Linked DNA regions of Homo sapiens. The protein of the gene in region 3 purifies or fractionates together with the protein of the main gene of each other region. This does not show direct contact. Each region holds a gene or a part of one and is shown on either strand. Other genes may lie near its edges.

Evidence for each region. The genes of interacting proteins can lie anywhere in the genome.
Region 1: the proteins of SLC5A7 (region 3) and UFD1 purify together in Homo sapiens (affinity purification with mass spectrometry; one large-scale study listed by BioGRID and IntAct). This does not show direct contact.
Region 2: the proteins of SLC5A7 (region 3) and CHSY1 purify together in Homo sapiens (affinity purification with mass spectrometry; one large-scale study listed by BioGRID and IntAct). This does not show direct contact.
Region 4: the proteins of SLC5A7 (region 3) and SMPD4 purify together in Homo sapiens (affinity purification with mass spectrometry; one large-scale study listed by BioGRID and IntAct). This does not show direct contact.

Annotation. Positions count from the first base shown.
Region 1 is NC_000022.11:19,451,243-19,455,785, forward strand, and holds part of UFD1 (ubiquitin recognition factor in ER-associated degradation protein 1), read right to left. Parts: intron 4,527-4,543; coding exon 4,438-4,526; intron 3,589-4,437; coding exon 3,507-3,588; intron 447-3,506; exon of another isoform or gene 352-446; intron 1-351. UniProt on the Homo sapiens protein: Essential component of the ubiquitin-dependent proteolytic pathway which degrades ubiquitin fusion proteins.
Region 2 is NC_000015.10:101,240,989-101,246,140, forward strand, and holds part of CHSY1 (chondroitin sulfate synthase 1), read right to left. Parts: intron 1-5,152. UniProt on the Homo sapiens protein: Has both beta-1,3-glucuronic acid and beta-1,4-N-acetylgalactosamine transferase activity. Transfers glucuronic acid (GlcUA) from UDP-GlcUA and N-acetylgalactosamine (GalNAc) from UDP-GalNAc to the non-reducing end of the elongating chondroitin polymer.
Region 3 is NC_000002.12:107,995,468-108,000,619, reverse strand, and holds part of SLC5A7 (high affinity choline transporter 1), read right to left. Parts: intron 2,783-5,152; coding exon 2,634-2,782; intron 1-2,633. UniProt on the Homo sapiens protein: High-affinity Na(+)-coupled choline transmembrane symporter. Functions as an electrogenic, voltage-dependent transporter with variable charge/choline stoichiometry.
Region 4 is NC_000002.12:130,167,043-130,172,194, reverse strand, and holds part of SMPD4 (sphingomyelin phosphodiesterase 4), read left to right. Parts: intron 1-4,604; coding exon 4,605-4,737; intron 4,738-5,152. UniProt on the Homo sapiens protein: Catalyzes the hydrolysis of membrane sphingomyelin to form phosphorylcholine and ceramide. It has a relevant role in the homeostasis of membrane sphingolipids, thereby influencing membrane integrity, and endoplasmic reticulum organization and function.

The DNA.
Region 1 (4,543 bases), on a different chromosome or scaffold from region 3:
TCCTGTCTAGTATACTCCCAAGGCTACAGAACTGAATTCTGTAAAAAAGAATTCCATGATGTAGGAGGGCCAGTTTTCTACCAGTGGACATTGTTGTGGTAAGCAGCTTAATGTATTTGCACACAACTCTGATTTTTTTTAGAGCTCAAATTCCTGGGTCAAAGTGTGTACACACTTTTAATGCTTTTAACATATAGAGACCAACCAGCCCTCAGAAACATTCCACTAAGCTATCCTTCCATCAGCAGAAAGAGGGATTGTTTTTTCCCAAACCTTTGAAAACTGCACATATTTTTTTTCACATGCTTTTATTGCTAGTCAGTCTGAGGCATTATCTCAACTTTTCCCTAGGAAGAAGAGGATTCTGGAATGTTCAACACACATCCCTGCACCTGGCTCCCCACTAACTGTAGCATGTTATACCTGCAATAGAGCACTGTTTAGTATTTATGTGGTCACATTCATGTAAATTTGAGTCACAGCTGCATTTAGTCTTCCTTTGCCGCACAGCCTTCCATTCATCCTGGTGTCAATAGCTGTGTTTGGCTTCTTCCTCTATTCAATCACAGCCTGCATTGCATGGAGTTCATCTGTTTTGACAAACCTGTGTCTCCTGGGCCTTCGCCCTGCCGTACCTGGACTGGCCTTTCTCTAGGTGCCGTACATGTTAGTGGGGGCTCCTTATTTCCTGGATTCTATGACTTTCTTATTTCTACCTTATTCCTTCATTTTAGTGAGGAACACCTCCTAGGAGCTTCCTGAGAAAAGATGCATGAGGATTATCTTCTTGTGAGTTCCTTTTTTCTAATCTCATATTTCATTGATAGGCTGGTTGGTATGTTAGTCTGCTAGGGCTGCCATATAAAATGCCAAAGATAGGGTGGCTCAAACAACAGAAATTTATTCTTCATAGTTTTGGAGGCTAGAAGTGCAGGATCAAGGTGTCAGCAGGTTTGGTTTCCTCTGACACCCTTTTCCTTGGCTTGCAGATGGCTGCCTTCTTGCTGTGTCCTCACATGGCCCTTCCTATGTCCAAATTTCCTCTTCTTAAAAGGACACCAGATTGAATTATGGCCAACTCTAATGGTCTTATTTTAACTTAATTGCTTCTTTAAATGGCCCTATCTGAGTTACTGGGGGTTAGGGCTTCAACACAGAAACACTGGAGGGACACAATCCAGCTCATAAGAGTTGGTACAGAATTTTAGGTTGGAAAAAATTTCCCCTCAGAATTTTGAGTATATTGCTCCACTATCTTCTAGTTTCCTCTGTGTCCTGCTAAGATGATGTCCCTTTTTTTGGGAGACAGGGACTTACTGTTACCCAGGCTGGAGTGCAGTGGTGTGATCTCAGCTCACAGCAGCCTCCACCTCCCAGGCTCAAGTGATGCTCCCAACTCAGCATTAAAGTAGCTGGGACTATAGGTGCGTGCCACCATGCTTGGCTAATTTTTAAAATTTTCTGTAGAGACAGGGTCTCCCTATATTGCCCAGGCTGGTCTCAAACTCCTGGGCTCAGATGATCTTCCCGCATCAGCCTCCCAAAGTGTTGGGATTACAGGTGTGAGCCATGGCGCTTGGCTGATGATGTCCTTAATGCATGGTGATACCTCTGTTCTCTCTCTAGAAGCTTTAGGATCTTTCTTTGCCTCAAAGTGGGGCTATTTTCATTCATTTTGCTGGAACTCAGTGAGCCCTTCAAATCTGCAAAATTGTGCCCATCTTTGGGGAAACTATTTCCCTGATGATTTCTGCTCCTTTGGTTTCTGTGGCTGTTCTTCCCACAAATCCTCTATTATTTAGATGCTGGAATGGAAAGCTTTCTGACTGTGGCCTTCACTTCAGAGATAGTAGTCTAGAGACCTACTGGAGTCGAGCCTCCAGCCTTCTGGGATGGGGGAGGGAGGGTAATGCAGCTCTAACTGCTTAGTAACAGAATTCTGTCTTTAGTCCCTCATTTCTAGAGGTGCCTTTTGAGAATTCCACAATCTACACAGAACTGCTTCTAGGCTTTCTATGGTCTACTAAGGTACCTGGGGCTTCCAAAGCCTTGTAGTTGCCTCCTCTTCCACTGTCTTTCTTACCTCATGACCTTTAGCCACAGCCTTAGTGGGGCTGCAGGATGGAATAGAGCTAAATATGTCTTCAATCCCATCTTTAAACATATACTTCTTAAATACATATTTATGGTCAAACAGGCCTGCTGTGCCCACTGGCCTCCCCTGCCTTCTGTAAATTTGCAACAGTCAGGTCACAGTCAGCCTGGGGGACGTCCCATGCTAAGGTCTTAGGTCGGAGTCAGGCACTGGCTTTTAGTGAGAAAGGCAGCCTGTAGCTGGTGAAGCCTGGATGGTGCCTGAAGGAGGAGCTGGAGGGTGAGGTCTGACTGGCCACTATGTTTGCTCCTCTGAGCCTGAAAGGTCCCAATGCCCAATGCTGTTTCAACTTGAACATTGAGCCCAGAAGTGGTTGTGAGTAGGACCAGGTGTGCAAACTTCACAGTGGTCTCTGTCCCCAACCACCCCAAGTGCTAGAGAAAAGAGTTCAGTAATTGGGATGGCTCCCATGTAGCAGCTGGTCCTGAATGGGTGGCTCAGTACATCTGCCCTCTGCCCTGATCCTGGATCCTCAAGGGTCCAATCCTTTGAGAAAAGGAACCAGGAGAGCGATGGGTCTGAAGCGCTGGTGTTGTAGAAATCCTCATCACAAAGAGGTGACTGCGTTCCAGTTGCTGCCAGGCCTGGCCATATTCCCACAAAGTGCCCATGTCTACAGGATGCTCAGCCCTTGCCTTCCTCTGTCCCGCCACCACCCTGCTCAGCTAGAAGGTGCTGCCTATATTTGAAGTTCAAGGTCTCTGTTGGAAGACGAAGCCCACCCAGGGCACACAGTTCTGTGATAACAGAGCCTGGAGTCGGCTCTAGAGCAAGACAGAGCTCCTGACCCCCATGCTGCAAGTCTTCTGTTTCATACACCCTACACCAGCTCTACAGAAAAAAACAGGACACCAGGGAGCAGAGGGACCCTAGGAAAGGGAAAACATGACAGACACCCTCATGTGGTTTGGCTGCGTCCCCACCCAAATCTCATCTTGAATTACCACGTGTTGTGGGAGGGACCAGGTGGGAGGTAACTGAGTCGGTGGGAGGTAACTGAGTCATGAGGGCGGGTCTTTTCCGTGCTGTTATCATGATAGTGAATAAGTCTCATGAGATCTGATGGTTTTATAAGTAGGTGTTTCCCTGCACCAGCTTTTTCTCTGCCTGCTACCATCCATGTAAGATGTGACTTGCCCCCTGCCATGATTGTGAGGCCTCCCCAGCCATGTGAACTGTAAGTCCATTAAACCTCTTTCTTTTGTAAATTGCCCAGTCTCGGGTACATCTTTACCAGCAGCTTGGAAACAGACTAATGCACACCCCTACTCAGAATGCCAAGAACTTCAGTCATCACTAGCAAATAAATCTCCTCATTACCAACCAAGGAAATACAAGGAAATACACTCACCTCTTCAACCTTTTTGACAAGGGGACGTGAATTTCTGATGAAAGTTATCTTACCAAGTTTAAATTCATAATTGGGAATTCCTCTGTAAGAAGAGACAGAGACAGAGAAATGTTATTTCCAGGAAAAAAGGACTAAAATTCATTTTTGACAGTCAAGAGGAACGCAGAAAAGATGCTGCTGCACCCCACCTGGGCCCTTTGGTGCTTCCTGGCATCCTCCCAGGAGGGAAGCAGAAAGTAACTGACTTCTTGGTTTGGTATCAATATTGGGTATAGGGCCAGGGGCTTTAGGCTCTGTACCTGTCTATGGAGAGGGGTCATCTGAAGGATTGGGAAGCCCTCACTGTCACTGTCCTGAGCTTCACAGAACCCCCTGAGGTGGCTAGACTCTCACTCCAGTATTCTGATTTCACACACACAACAGACAACTGACACACCTCAGCCCTGCCCCTGCCATCATGGCCACCAGAGGAAGGGTCTGCTGTGGGTCCCCGGACCCAGCAACAGAAGCACATCTGAGGTAGCTCCTCAGGGAACTTTCAGGGGAACTGAGATAATGTGACCTGATTAATAATTCCAAGTCACAAAACAGGAAAATAGGCAGATCACCAAATAGGGACCAGAAAGGTTTTGAGTAAGAGACAGATCTAATCAGACTCGCATCTTAGGAAAGCCAGTGGGGGCAAGAAGAGGCTGAATTGGGGGTATGGAGAGGTATGGAGAGAGGCTGGACCACAGTGGTACTGGGGGTGGCACTGTGGAAGGAGGGGCATGTTGTGCTCCACCCCACCAAGGAGAGCAGCTAAGGGTTTTAGTCCCTTGGGAGACTACTGACCCAGGCTTTGTCTCCAGAACTGGGGTGAGGCTGCCCGACCCCAGCGGGCTGGCACAGATCCTCCTCCTGTCCTGGAGGAGAGCCAGGACAGACCTACCTTTTAATATCTCCAGGCTTGATTGGGGAGGGGCTGGGCTCTACCCCTTTCTTCTTTCCATCCAGTCTATTGCCAGATCCAGAGAAAGCCTAGACAGGAAGTAGGT
Region 2 (5,152 bases), on a different chromosome or scaffold from region 3:
CCAAGGGAACAAAAGTACATATACAAAAATAAAATAACGTACAACTCCACCCCCAAAGTATTCACCGTGGTTATTTTTGGATGGGAAAACCAGAAAGGATTTAATAGTCTTTTTTTTTGTTTTCTGAGACGGAGTCTGGCCCTGTCGCCCAGGCTGGAGTGCAACAGCGTGATTTCACTGCAACCTCCGTCTCCCAGGTTCAAACGATTCTCCTGCCTCAGCCTCCCGAGTAGCTGGGATTACAGGCACCTGCCACCACGCCCAGCTAATTTTTGTACTTATAGTTGAGACAGGGTTTCACCATGTTGGTCAGGCTGGTCTCGAACTCCTGACCTTGTGATCCGCCCACCTCGGCCTCCCAAAGGGCTGGGATTACCGGCGGAAGCCATTGCGCCCGGCCAATAGTCTTCCTTGTGTTTTCTAAATTTTCTAAGTTTTCTGCAACAGGTATATTTAGAGCTGGAAAAAAAGTTTTAACTGGGCAAAAGCTTTGAGGCTAACAAGCAACCAAAGAAATCAAAACATGTAACAACAGAGAATTTTTACTTTTGTAATAAAATTTTTTTATCCAACAAGAAAAACTGAAAGAAAAATGGAGTAAGATTGAGTCGTTTCAATTGTGATTTTTAAGCTTTAATAGTTATTCTACTAGTTACCATTAAAAAGGTGGGGAGATTTTCTGTGAGTTCCCCAAAATCACTATTACATGTGCTGTCTGATGGCTACACGGCAGTCAGTTTAAAAGGACTCATGATAAAATCATCTTGGAAGTTAAAGAAGGGAGGATATGGGTTTTTCTCTCTGTAGAACTGATGGATAATAGGAATTAAGGGTATATACAGCTGTTCCTTATCATCCAAGAGGGAATGATCCCAGGACCCCAAAATCCACAGACGCTTTAGTCCCTGATATAAAATGGTGCAGTATTTGCTTAAACCTTCACATACCCTCCTGTATACTTTAAATAGTCTCTAGATTACTCATAATACCTAATACAATGTAAATGCTATGTAAATAGTCGTTATACTATATTGTATTTACTTGTATTGTTTTTATTATTGTTATTTTCTATTGTTTTTCCCCCCAAATATTTTCAATCCATGGATGGTGGAATCCACAGATGTAGCAGATAGCAGGGCCAGCTGTATTTACATTCTCCCCTGTTACAGAAGGGATTTAAGACAACTTAACCAAAATCATACAGGATGAGAAAAATCAGCAAGAAAATGAGACCAAAGAAAAGTAAGAGTAGGAAACCCTTACGCAAGGAACGAAAGGCAAATCCTGGTGGAGGCTGCCCTGCCCAGGGCAAACCCTGACTCAGTGAGAGCACTCTCAGGAGCCACCACTTCAACTGCAAAGTGCTCTTGTGCTGAGACCTACCTGCCATCACGTGACCTACGGATGTGCTAGTGGTGGGCCCAAATTCAGCTACAAACTTTTCAGCAGGCAGCCATGAGAAGTCACGAGACTGTGTCCTACTGTTCAGGGTTAAGTGTAAAAACATACTAAGGCCTGAGGGAAACTTCTCCCAAGGTCAATGATGGAGGTATCCTTACAGGAAGTACAGTGTGATGGAGCAGCAGTCCAAGTTCATCCTCCAAGAGAGTACACGGAGGGCACCACTCTATGCTGCCAGCCAGAGCCACAGCCTTCAGAAAAGGGAGGGGTCTTTCAAGGCCACCAAGTGATGCCACGGGCCTCTCCTCGGCCGGAAGGAATCCCCTCTGGCAGGATGTTGCAAACACTGTTCAATCCCTCATCTCCATCTTCTGCCTTGGTCCCAAAAGCTCTGCAGCAAATGCATTCAGCTGCAGTTTCCCACTTCTGTGCATGTGGTTTCCGGGTATGTGGTTTCCTCTTTCAAAACCTTTAACTGTCTCATCGTGCACGTCCTTATGACCTGTCCAATCTCAAACCCTTTTTGAAAGGAGGTGGGAAAATGTAACAGAGGCTGTGAATGGTGGGAAAATTATTTTAAAAGAAAAACCAAATTATACTCCTTACTGTCCATCCTAAAAAATAGACTTGAGGGGAAAGCAAGCAGTAAAGAGCCCTTTTTTTTCTTAATTAAGCTGTTGGCAGGGGGGATTACAGCCTCCCACTTCAACAATGGCCTGGGCACAAGCCCAGACGGCATTCCAAGGTATTAAGAGCTACGAGGAGCCCGCCCTTTGAGCCCAGGTTCACGGCAAACAATGGGAACAGAGACCACAAATAGGCCACTTTTGAAACATCACAATTAAAATTTGGAGTGTAAATGACAGAAGACGAATTCTGATCTCATGAGACATTTCCAAAGCTTGAAAGTGTTGGAGAGCTCCTTTCATAATTTGCATATCGCTGCTGTATCCTTAAAAGTATAAATATGCGACTAATACTTAATGATCCACATGAACCAAAAATCAGTATCGTTTAATGCAAACAATTAAACCACCCTGAACTTGTTCTGGCCGACCACTTTGCAAATCACCGTCTCCCTGAACTGAGGCACCGTCCTCTATAAAGCCCACCTAAACACAGTCACCAGCCACCCTGGCCCCACAGCCTCCACACTGGCTTTCCATCCCACACACGCGCCTCCCAGGTGGTCACCCACATCACTTTTCCAGGCTCACGGACACTGCTAAGGCTGAACAAACAGTCATCGTGGATAAGGAGACCAGCCTTACACACACTTCAACCACTTTCAGACCCACTCCCAGCATGCATGGCTTGGCGACTTGAAAACCTGGACAAAACCTGCCGGTCAAGGACAACTTTGCAGTGCTTGGGCTGGATTTAACTGAAGGCCAGACAACTTGATTCCAGTGTTAGCTTCTGAGGCCACATTCTGTGTCTGGATCCGTGTGCGCCTCTAAATTGTGCCCAATTACCTGCAGACACTGCCATCAGTTACCAAACACGCCGAGCAAAGTGTAACAGTCTTTGCGCCTATGGTCCACCTAGAAAACCACAATTTCAATGGCCTCAACACCTACAGTCAATAATCCTCAGGCTTTTGGTTTACAGGCATCAACTTGACACCACATCAGAGCAGACTGGACCTTATTTGTAATCATCCAGAAAATGTATTTGTCTACAGAAAAAATGCTGCAGCTATAAATGCTTCAGAGATGACACTGAATTCAGGTGAGAAGATGGACAGCTTTTATGCTTGTAAACTGTAGCTAGGTTTTCTTGTTCACCCAATGCCATCCGGAACCAGAAGCCAAAAAGGCCTCAACAACAGGTGGAAGCACTGAGTATTTACATTAAGATACAAAAGCTGAGGCCCCTGCACTGAAAATGCTGCCACCAGATCCTCCCCAATGTCACCTGGAAGCGTGAAGTTACAGTAACTGAGGAAAACGGTTGTGACACTAACCAAGTAAATGTGTGCTAAGCTAATTCTGTCACTTCAGGACAGAATTAATGGTAACTGACTGAAACGAGAACGGGCTGCAGCTCTGTGCCTAGCGGACCTCCACACCAGCAGCCTAACGTGCTCAAAATGGAATGCAGTTTCTCTTAGAGCTGACATCTTTTTGTGGTTTTACTGTAGCTTTATTACAAAATAACTGCTTACTGTAGAAAAACCAGAATATATAGAAAAGAGCTAAGAAGAATATAAAAGATCACTTGGCATCACAGTGAGTACATCCTTTGATGTTTCCTTTTCTATGCTACACAAACATACACTTTTGTTTTACTTTAAACACAGAAGGGCTTTGTACTGGCCATACTGTTTTACAGTTTACTTTCACTTAAGTATATTCTGAACCTCTCCTCATGTCAATAAAAGTATTTCAGCCACACCATTTTTACTTGTTAGAGATGCAGACCACAGTATGGATGAATCAGTTAAGTCAATTTTGGTCCTTATCTCCTAAAGCAGGACACCTAAAATACCTGAAATTTCCACTTCATATGTACACATTTAAGCACACCTTTAAAATTCCTTTGGAAAAAATTCTAGAGCAATTGCCAGACCTCAAGAGAGCTGCATTTTAGACTTCTTGATAAATGCTACCCAAGCGTCCCTCAACAGGTACCGGTCCTGTCCAGCTCTAGCTAGGTACCGGTACTTGACCAACTCTAGCCACCCTCTGCAGCAGCAACACCGCTGGGCTGATCTTCCAAAACACACATCCCATCAGGCTACTGTCCTGCCGAAATGTCACCAATAGCTCTGGACAGCAACCACACAAAGCCTGGCACGCAGACCTTCCCTCCATGTCCCTGCCCACCACTCTACCACCCACAGCCTACACCTAGCCCCAAAGAGCTGGCCTTTCCCATCGCTCCTTCACTAACTCCTGCCATTTCATGTTGTAGGAAACCTGTAGTTGTCTCTGCCTCAAAAACACCTCTTCATCTTCCAAGACTCAGCTAGTGGGTAAAAAAAGGGTGGGAGTGTGGGTGAGACATTTCTTGATCCATCACCCACTGGGTGTAAGCCTCTTTCTTCTGCTCCCCCACAGTGATTAGTTCACGCACCCTGACAGCCCTCATCAACCAATACCATCGCTCGTTTCCTTCTGAGACAATGAACTCTGCAGAGACTAGGGCCCTGTATTTGGAATCTACTGTTAATAAAGAGCAGCTTAGTTAACAGACAGGGGAACGTGAAGCTGCCGGTGCAATGGAAACAGTCACGCACAATCCGCTATTGACAGCCACATCTATCCCTGGAATCAATCCGCTATTGACAGCCACAGCCATCCCTGGAAATCCCTGGAATATTGTTTGAGCGCTTCAAGATCTTGAACCTGACATAAAAAACTACACTCATTTTCAGAGCCACATGGTTCCCTAGTCTCCTACAGGAAATTCACGATCTGAAATGACTTGGTGCTCCAAAAGTTCACTTACAGGTTGATTATTTGGATTTTACATGGAAAAGCCTTCTGTATAAATGTTTGCCAAGTTGAATTCTATCTAAGAAAGTGAGGACTGCTCTGAACTGTTTCAAGATAAACATGGTTTACTTAGCTCAAGAAATAAGGAAATGAATTCAGATTTATAAGATAGGAGGATCTCATTAAGGTTGGTAGAGGAACAGTCCGTCTTCATTTAAGGCATTAGGAAGAGATCATTCACTGATAATAGTATCCTGAAATCAGATTCCTATATCTCTAGGTAATGCTTCTCAAACTTTCTTCCCACAGTC
Region 3 (5,152 bases):
CTGTCGCAAAAGAAAAAGAAACTGCCAGGCACAGTGGCTCATGCCTATAATCGTAGCACTTTGGGTAGCCACTGTTAGAGGATTGCTTGAGTCCAGGAGTTCAATATCAGCCTGGGAAATACAGTGAGACCTGGTCTCTACAAATAATAATAATAAACAAAATAAAATAAAAATTTTTTAAAAATTATATTTGAAATATATATCCATATAAAAGTGTGTGTAGGCACACACACTTTTATGTTTTCTGTGAATTAGGGAAAGATATCCATTCCTTAAGGGAAAGATATCCATTCATTAAAGTAATAAGAAAATATGTGATTGAGAAATACATGGGTGACATATAAGCCTTCAAAGATGGGCCCAATACTAACAGGTAGAAGAATAAAGAATTGAAGGAAGAGATGTTTAGATGGAGCAAGTCAAAGAGGAGAAGAATAAATGGGGTGTGTGTGTGTGCGTGTACACTCGCACCCACATCTGTTGGTGACAGGCTTTGCTGGCAAGGGAGTAGCTTGGGGAAATGGGAGAGATAAAGATGGATGTGTGGAGAAAACTCAAATTGCAAGCTAAAGGATTTGTATTTTGTTTTTGCAGGCAACTGGAAGCTAGAAAAAATTCTTTTAAGTCTTAAAAAGTTTTCAGTGGAATTTATTCTGAAATTTAATAACATAGACATGAATGGTGAGTTTAGTGAAAAGGAAGAGTCAGGGAAAGTGGTAGGTGATTTCAATTCCACCTAGATGAAGGCTGAAGTAAAGCAGTGACACTGGGAATGAAAAAATATCGGTACTAAAAAGGATTATGAAGAGTGAGCCAACAACCCTTACAAGAAGGAGAGAGAGGTCAGAGAGAGGGAAAATGAAAAGAAAAACCTCAAGTTTACAGTTTTGGAGCTCCAGGGGTGATGATAAAATCAATGACATTAGAGAATTTGAGAAAAGAAGGTGGTCTAAGGGGTAAGTTGATTAATTATGTATGCTCACACAGCAATTAAAGTTTGGAAAACAACATTATTTAGTCTTTTATTCAACCAATTCAATAGGGCCTTCTCTAGTAACCAACAGAACTCCATTCCTTATCAATTTGGCTACATTTTGTGGCAGGAAAAATATTCTAACATATTTGCACTGTCATCTTTACACTTGCATACTTGATTTATGCACCCGTGGGTTTTAAGTTCTAGTCTCATACAAAGCAATGAGAAATCACATATATCATCAATAACAGGTTCATTCCCTGGGGTTGTGTTTCTTGGAATACCTAGTGCATCAGTTATGAGAGCTGTCATTGCCAAACCAACCTGGCTCCTGACATTCTGAAGAGGGATTTATTTCTATGTTCCCTATTTTATTTCTGGAAGTTTATGTTGATGCTAAGGAAAAATCAGAATTTCAGCACGGTCCACTTAATTTTGGTAATTTAAATACAAAATAGTGGGAGTCCTTGAGCAAATTAAATATTCTCATATTCAGTTACAATATGAATGGACGAAATTCCATGAAATGCAAATAAAATGTCTAAGGAGAAAAGAGAAAATACTATAATCTTTGCTAGCGTATGTAAATTTATAGTTAAACTGCACATCTAATTGTAGTCTGTTTTTTACAATTTTTCCTCTAGGATATTATTAGAGATGATGGAAAGTTTATAAAAAGGAGAGAAGGGCATGAGATTACTTCTTCATTTTTAATTTCTAAGTGTCTAGTGTCAAAAGTAAAATATAATGAAATGCTTTAAATTGTAAGATAAATAAATAAAGATGAGGAGAATCAAGAGTACTTAACCATCCTTGGGAAAATGAATCATGATCTCTAGTGTTAGGTTGCTCAGTCTGTGGCCTTTGCAGGAGGGCATTGCCCCTAAAGAATCTACAACTGGGATAATATATGTGTATGGTGAGATAATGTACATGAACCTATGATGACCCTAGCCCAGCATGGACACACCAGTTTTTATTCTTCTTTTGATACATCTTAGGTATTGAATATTATATGCATAACTGTACTCTTCACATTTCTTCAACATTGACTAAAATATGTTCAGACACACAAAAGTGCTTTTAATATAGTGCTAATAATACTAATAATACTCATGTCTCATAATTATAATAAAAACAATAGATAATAAATCTTTCTGGTGCCTTATATAATTAAGAATTTTCTTTGTTTTTAGACCACAAATAGTGATGATTAATATTTGAAATCCACAGTTTTCCAATGGGATCATTTCTATGTCTTATGAGCATTCTTAGGATTCACCAACTAACGTAAAGGGAGACTTGTACAAGTTACCACTAAGGTTTGAATTTTGTTATCTCTGCCGAGGGAAATGGATTGCCTTAAATACTAAAAGGAGATCATGCATAAGTTTCCATCAAATCTAGGCATTAAGGAAAGCAAGACCTAGACCTTTCTAACAGTCCAATGGAGAGCACACTTTTCTGTCAAATTTTATCAAAATGACGAGTTTTTCATCTAATTAATTTATGGAGAAATTTGAAATTTCATGTATGTGACTTAGTATGTATTACTCATGAGGGAAAATAATATTTCTACTCATTTTTAATGAGTTAGTATAAAATACATTACCTTTTACAGAAAAAAAGGAGGAGAATCTTGGGTGCTCCCACTTACCAGCCCTACAAAAATGCAAAAGAGCTGAACGACATCAGTGTAGGCCACAGAATAGAGCCCTCCCACCAGTGTGTACAGAGTGGCAATGAGTGCAGAGATGATGACAGAAATGTGCATATCCACATCGATGATCACGCTGATGGTGGCTCCTGAAACAAACAAGAGAGTTCTGTGGTCAAGGTGCCCAGACAGATTCTGCTCTTTGTATAAGGACATAATGAAAGTTCAGTGATAAACAACATTTTTCTCTCTGTCATATGAAATGCAGTGGATGAAAACACCTAAAGTTAATTTTTATATTGAAATTTGTATATCTTAATAAATTCAGTGAGATACATACTTTTTCTTTCTGAAATTACTGGTTTGCTAACTTATTTATTTGGAGGACACACAGATCCATGGTATGGTTATAGAAGACCCTGAATTACTGAGAAATTTAATTACATTACAAGAACTCAAAATAATTTCACTATCTGGAACTCTGACTCAATCAAATACAGCCATGTGTTGCTTACCAATAGGGATGTGCTCTGAGAAATGTGTTGTTAGGTGATTTCACTGTTGTGCAACTTCACAGTATGTACTCACTCACAAATCTTGATGGTGTAACCTACTACACACCTAGGCTACATGGTATGGCCTATTGCTCCTGGGCTACAAATTCGTGCAGATTGTTACCGTACTAAACACTGTAGGCAAGTGTAACATGATGGTAACTATTTGAATATCTACACATCATATCTAAACAGAGAAAGTAACAGTAAAAATATGCTATTATAATCTTATGGGACCACTGTCATATATGCAGTCCATCATTGACCAAAACGTCATTACATTACCAAACGTCATTAGTCACATCTATGAAAAACACAAGGCTTTCTGAGAAACATGATCACCCATTTCCACATTTTACAATTGACATTCATTTGCCATTTTGCATTTACTCTGCCCCCTACTAGGCTTTGATAGCTAACAAATGGTTAAGGCAGCAAAGAATTGAGAAAAATTTGTAGGAACAAATTATCAAATTGGTAAATGTTATTAATCAATTTCTCCCTCTTTAATTTGCGACAGATCACTCTTCTTTTATTTAATTGGTAGAACATACCAGTCCTGCTCCTAGGATACCAGTATACTGAAGAGCCTAAGATTTGAATATCATATTTTTAAGTAATTTTCATCATCAACATTTTAAACTTCTCTTAGAAATCAAATTTATGTTTCTCTTTATAACATTGTTTATTGTGTTTGTTGGTCCCTATATTTCCACTGAACATATTGAGGTATGACCAGTTTGGGCCGCTGTGGTTCTTGGACTGACAGTTCATAATTCACTTGTTGCTTTAGTAGCCTTTTCCCTATTGTTCTCAAAACTATACAGTTTACATGTCACATTATTAAATGCATACATGTAATGGATCTGTGATTTTATGTATCATCAGTTGCAGCCAGCTGAGTTGTCTTACACCCTACCCCCATTCCTCAATTGGCATGCTAGTAGTATATGCAACCCACTGGAGATGAAACTACATTATCTCAATATAAGATGTGTTGATCCAAAATATCAGTAAGAAATATTTTTCAGTGTTTTGCTATGGTGATAAAATAGAATTATTTTCCAGAGTAAAGATCCCTTGAAAAGAAAAATCTAGTAAGAAGTTGGAGAATGAAGACAAGGATGAGAGATAATTATAGATGAGTGACTTCAGATAACTGACTGAGTTATTGTTTTATAGATATTTGAAAAGTTATTTTTTCCTGAGATCATTTACTTCGAATCGAAACTTTACTTCCAACACTTTGTCGTTCTTTTTTTTTGTGTGTAGTTCTCCACTTTAATAACGCTTCTAAGCTATATACCATGAATTATGAAAAGTTCAATTATAAAATAAAGATTAGCTGACTAAAATCTCAAAGATTTGGGGTCCTAGTAGATGCTGTCACTTAACTGTAACTCAGAGATATTAGAGACGTCAATCACTTCTCCATTATCACTATTAAAATTGAGATAAAATTTTCTCTAAAATATTTTCTGAAAAATTAAATCAATTGTAAGTAAAACAAAGTGATACTTTGAGGTATACCAGGAAATATTAGTCTACTCATGAAGCTATAAAATAAGTATCCTGCAAAGTTATGAAAATCCACTGAACTTGAGCTGTTAGAAGTGTAAATACACATTTCTTCAAAATGTTGTAGGATGTCAATTTCTACCAAGAAGATAGTTTAAGATTCTCCTATGTTTCAATGGTGAACTATACACATTCACAGAAAGGTGGTAATAGATCTTATATATTCTTGAATATATCAAATTATTTGTAATAAACACTAAATTTTAATTAAATCCAACTATTACTTTTTATTTGTGTAAATTTAAAGATTACAGGTGCAATGATGTTACCTGGGTATACTGCATAGTGGTGAAGTTTAGACTTTCAGTGCTTTCATTACCCAAATAATGTACATAGTACCCAGTAAGTAACTTCACACACACACACACACACACACACACACACTCT
Region 4 (5,152 bases), about 22 Mb from region 3:
GAGGGTGGGGTATGGCGGGCAATCTGTCCTTAGTGTTCAGTGTCTTTGGCCATCACTGAAGCTATCAGGTCCCTGGAGGCCTCCACGGCCTGCATGGGAATGGGCTGTGTTGTGCATGGAGCAGCCGTCCCCACAGGCGGTGTCTGAGTCAGTGAGCAGGGTGGAAAGGTTGTCCTATGAGCAAAAAAAATAGGAATCTCTATGGGCCCCAGGAGCAGATCTTGAAGGGGAGGCCCTGGGCCAAAGAGCCTGTTTTGTCAGTCCAAACAGGCTGAGCCTGATGCGTGCCTGCACAGGTTGGGAGTGTGAACCAGGGGCTCTCATGCCTGGCTGTCCTGGGTCCTCAGTGGGCACTAACGCAGGCCGACTTCCCAGGAGACCCTCTTGCCCCAGCAGCAGCTGCCTGTGCACCTCTGACCCTCTTTAATCTCACTGGCCCATCGCCTTCCCCAGGAAGCTGCATGCAGGCCCCTTCCTGCAGATGCTGGCCCACCCCAGATCTGCTGGCATGTGTAAGGCAGGCCAGGCCTTTACCTACAATTCACGTGTGGACAGATTCCCCAGAGGGTGGAGGGGAGAAAGGGAGTGGCAAGGAGGAGACGCTGCCCAGGTAGCGGCAGTGATCAGTGACCCTGAAATGTTGCTGATCCTGTGGAGGACTCGGAGGTGAGGCAGATTCACACCCTCTTAGATGCAGAATTCAGCTGCCAAGCAGTTTTTGATGCCTGGTTTTTTTGCTTGTTTTAACTTTTTGGGTTGTTTTAATTTTTTCTATTAGAAATTATATACGTAGGCTGGGAGTGGTGACTGATGCCTGTAATCCCAGCACTTTGGGAGGCCAAGGTGGAGGGATCGCCTGAGGTCAGGAATTCGAGACCAGCCTAGCCAACATGGTGAAACCTTGTCTACTAAAAATACAAAAATTAGCTGGGCATGGTGGTGCACACCTGTAATCCCAGCTACTCAGGAGGTTGAGGCGGGAGAATTGCTTGAACCCGGGAGGCGGAGGTTGTGGTGAGCTGAGATTGCACCACTGTACACACACACAAAAAAAAAAAAGAAAAGAAATTATATATATATGGTTTGGGTTTATTTATTTATTTTATTTTATTTTATTTTATTTTGTGTTTGGAGATGGAGTCTCACTCTGTCGCCCATGCTGGAGTGGTGCAGTGGCATGATCTTGGCTCACTGCAACCTCCATCTCCTGGGTTCAAGTGATTCTCCCACCTCAGCCTCGCAAGTAGCTGGGATTACAGGCACAGGTCAGCATGCCCGACTAATTTTTGTATTTTTAGTAGTAACGGGGTTTCACCATGTTGGCCAGGCTGGCCTCAAACTCCTGACCTCAGGCAATCCGTCCACCTTGGCCTCAGACAAAGTGCTGGGATTACAGGTGTGAGCTACTGCACCCAGCATTTTTTTTTTTTTGAGACAGGGCCTGGCTGGGTTGCTCAGCCTGGAGTGCAGTGTTGTGATCACAACTCACTGCAACATTGACCTCCTGAGCTCAAGTGATCCTCCCACTTCAACCTCCCAAGTAGCTAGTACTATAAGCATGCACCCCCACACCTAGCTTTTATTTTATTTTTTTGTAAGATGGGTCTTGCTATGTTGCCCAGGCTGCTCTAGAACTCCTGGGCTCGAGCGATCCTCCTGCCTTAGCCTCCCAAAGTTCAGAGATTACAGGCATGAACCACTACACTGGTCCATTGTGTGCTTTTTTTTTTTTTTTTGACAGGGTCTTACTCTGTTGCCCAGGCTGGAGTGCAGTGGCGCTGTCTCTGCTTCAAGTGATTCTCCTGGCTCAGTCCCAAGTAGCTGGGACTACAGGTGCCTGTCACCACACCCAGCTAATTTTTGTATCTTTAGTAGAGACAGGGTTTCACCATGTTGAGCAGACTGATCTTGAACTCCTTACCACAAGTGATCTGCCTGCCTCGACCCCCTAAAGTGCTGGGATTACAGGTGTGAGCCGCCGCTCCTGGCCTAGCCATTATGTATTTTTAAAGACGGTCTTACTCTGTCACACAGGCTGGAGTGCAGTGTCATAATCATCACTTGGTGGCACAATCATCACTCAAGCCAGCCTGTCACATCAGTGACTATAGGCATGCATCACTACAGCCAGCTAATTTAACTTTTTTTTTTTTTTTTGCGGAGATATGGGGATGCCTCGCTGTGTTGCCCAGGCTGGTCTTGAACTCCTGGCCTCAGCAATCTTCCCGCCTCAGCTTCCCAAGTAGCTGGAATTACAGTTGCAAGTCACCACACCTAACTTTTTATTTTGAAATAACTTCAGATTTACAGATAAGTTTCCACGCATAATAAAAATAACTTGCAGGCTGAGCACAGTGGCTCACGCCTGTAATCCCAACACTTTGGGAGGCCAAGGCGGGAGGATCACTTGAGGCCAGGAATTCGAGACCAGTGTGGGCAACGTCGGGAGACCTCATTTCTACAAAAAAAAAATTAGCCAAGTATGGTGATGTGCAACTATGGTCCCAGCTACTCAGGAGGCTGAGGTGGGAGGATCACTTGTGCCCAGGAGCAATGAGCTGTGAGCGTGCCACTGCACTTTAGCCTGGGGTAACAGAACAAGATCCTGTCTCAGGGAAAAAAAAAAAAAAGAAACTTTCATAGATCTTCACCCAGATTTCCAAACTGTTAATACTTTGCTGCATGTGTTGGTTTCCACCTCTATTGTATGTGTTTTTTTTTCTCTAAGCCAATATGAGTAAGCTACAGGATATGGCATCCCTTGACCTCTTAATATTTCAGTGTATTTCCTAGAAGCGAATGCATTATCCTATATAGTCACAGTGCCTGTAACCACACCAGGAAGTTAGTATTGCCACCAGGCCTCACACTGTGTGCAGTGATGTTTCACAGGCTCACCCACTGTATATAGTGATATTTCTAGTCCCCTTCAGTCAGGAATGGTCCCTTGCCTTTCTGTCTTTCCTGACCTTGACCCCTCCAGAGCATGCGGCCGCCCCTTAGGCTGTGTGGTATTTGCTGGTGACTAGGCCCAGCATGGGCTTTGTTGGGAGGAGCACCGTAGTGGGACACCTGGTCCTTGCCAGGTGCCCTTTTATCACTGGGTTAAAAAGGTGCCGGTCAGGTTTTTCCATTGTAAAATAATTACTTTGTGCCCAGGTTAAATAGTAATGAGGCTGGGCATGGTGGCTCATGCCTGTAATTCCAGGACTTTGAGAGGCTGAGGTGGGCGGATCACTGGAGCTCAGGAGTGTGAGACCAGCTCAGGCAACATAGCAAAATCCCATCTCTACCAAAAATTTAAAAATAACCAGGTGTGGTGGTGTGCGCCTGTAATCCCAGCTACTTGAGAGGCTGAGGTGGGAGGATTGCTTGCACCCAGGAGGCGGAGGTAGCAGTGAGCCAAGATCATGCCCCTGTACTCCAGCCTGGGCTACAGAGTGAGACCGTATCTCAACCAAAAAAAAAAAAAAAAAAATTAATAGTGCCTGGGCAACATAGCATGACCTTGTTTCTACTAAAAAGAAAAACATCAGCCAGGCGTGGTGGTGTTGGTCCCAGCTACTTGGGAGGCCTAAGTCTAGGAGGTTGAGGTTGCAGTGAGCTGTGATTGCATCATTGCACTCCAGCCTAGGCGATAGGGTACGATCCTGTCTCAAAAAAAAATTGATAACGAGAATTTACCGGGAAGATGTATGGAGACTATGTAATTATCAGTAGTATTAACATCCACTTTTGATTCTCCTATTTTTTCAAATTGATTTTATTTGCAGACAGGGTCTTGTTCTCTTACCCCAGGCTGGAGTGCAGTGGTACGATCTCTGCTCACAGCAACCTCAACCTCCTGGGCTCAAGTGATCCTCCTGTCTCAACCCCCCAAGTATCTGGGACTACAGGGAGGCATCACCACACCTGGCTAATTTTTGTATTTTTTTGTGGAGACAGGGTTTTGCCATGTTGCCCAGGCTGGGAATTTCTTAATTTTTTAGAAACAGGGTCTTGCTCTGTCACCCCAGGGTGGAGTGAAGTTGGTACGATCATTTGTCACTATAGCCTCAACTCGTGGGCCCAGGCCATTCTCCCTCCTCAGCCTTCTAAGTAGCTAGGACTACAGGCACATGCCACCAGGCCCAGCTGTTTTATGTTTCAATGTTTTTGTGGAGATAGGTTCTCATTTTGTTGCCCAGGCTGATCTCAAATGCCTGGCCTCAAGAAATCCTCCTGCCTTGGTCTCCCAAGGTGCTGGTGTGAGCCCCCATGCTCACAGGTGTGAACCCCCATGCCCAACCTCACTGTTGATTCTTGACCAAATCAGCTATTAATAGGGCGGTTACTAAATGGTGGTTCTCTAACTTCATCCCTCCTTCATTGATTTGTGGGTCAATGGTCACTCTGTGGTAAGGAAGACTTCTCTCTTTGCTATTTATTTATTCAGGTATATCAGTGTGGATCAGGGGGCTGGGGGGAGGTGTGCATTGTGCTATTGAACAAGTTGTAATCTGTCCCTGCTCTCGTTGATTTTGATATCCAGATTGCCCCTGTTACAGCGGGAGCGAGTTACAGCGGGAGCCTGTAACTCGGGCCTGTTTCTGTGTCTCCCTCAGGACACCAGCCATACCCTTTGCTTCCTATGGCCTCCACCACACTAGCCTCCTAAAGCGACACATCTCTCATCAGACGTCTGTGAATGCAGACCCCGCCTCCCACGAGATCTGGAGGTCAGAAACTCTGCTCCAGGTGAGAGTTGAGCTGGTCAAAAGAAACTGTTCAGCCAGCTGGGCATGGTGGCTCGTGCCTATAATCCCCAGCACTTTGCGAGGCCTAGGTGGGCAGATGACCTGAGGTCAGGAGTTTGGGACCAACCTGGCCAGCATGGTGAAACCACGTCTCTACTAAAAACACAAAAATTAGTTGGGCGTGGTGGCAGGCGCCTGTAATCCCAGCTACTCGGGAGGCTGAGGCGGGAGAATCGCTTGAACCCAGGAGGTGGAGGCTGCAGTAAGCTGAGATCGTGCCATTGCACTCCAGCCTGGGTGACAGAACTAGACTCCATCTCAAAAAAAAAAAAAGAAAAAGAAAAGAAACTGTTGCCACCTTCCACTATGTGGGGCAGAGTCCCAGAGGCGGCCCCTCAGCCCGGGGCTGATTCTAA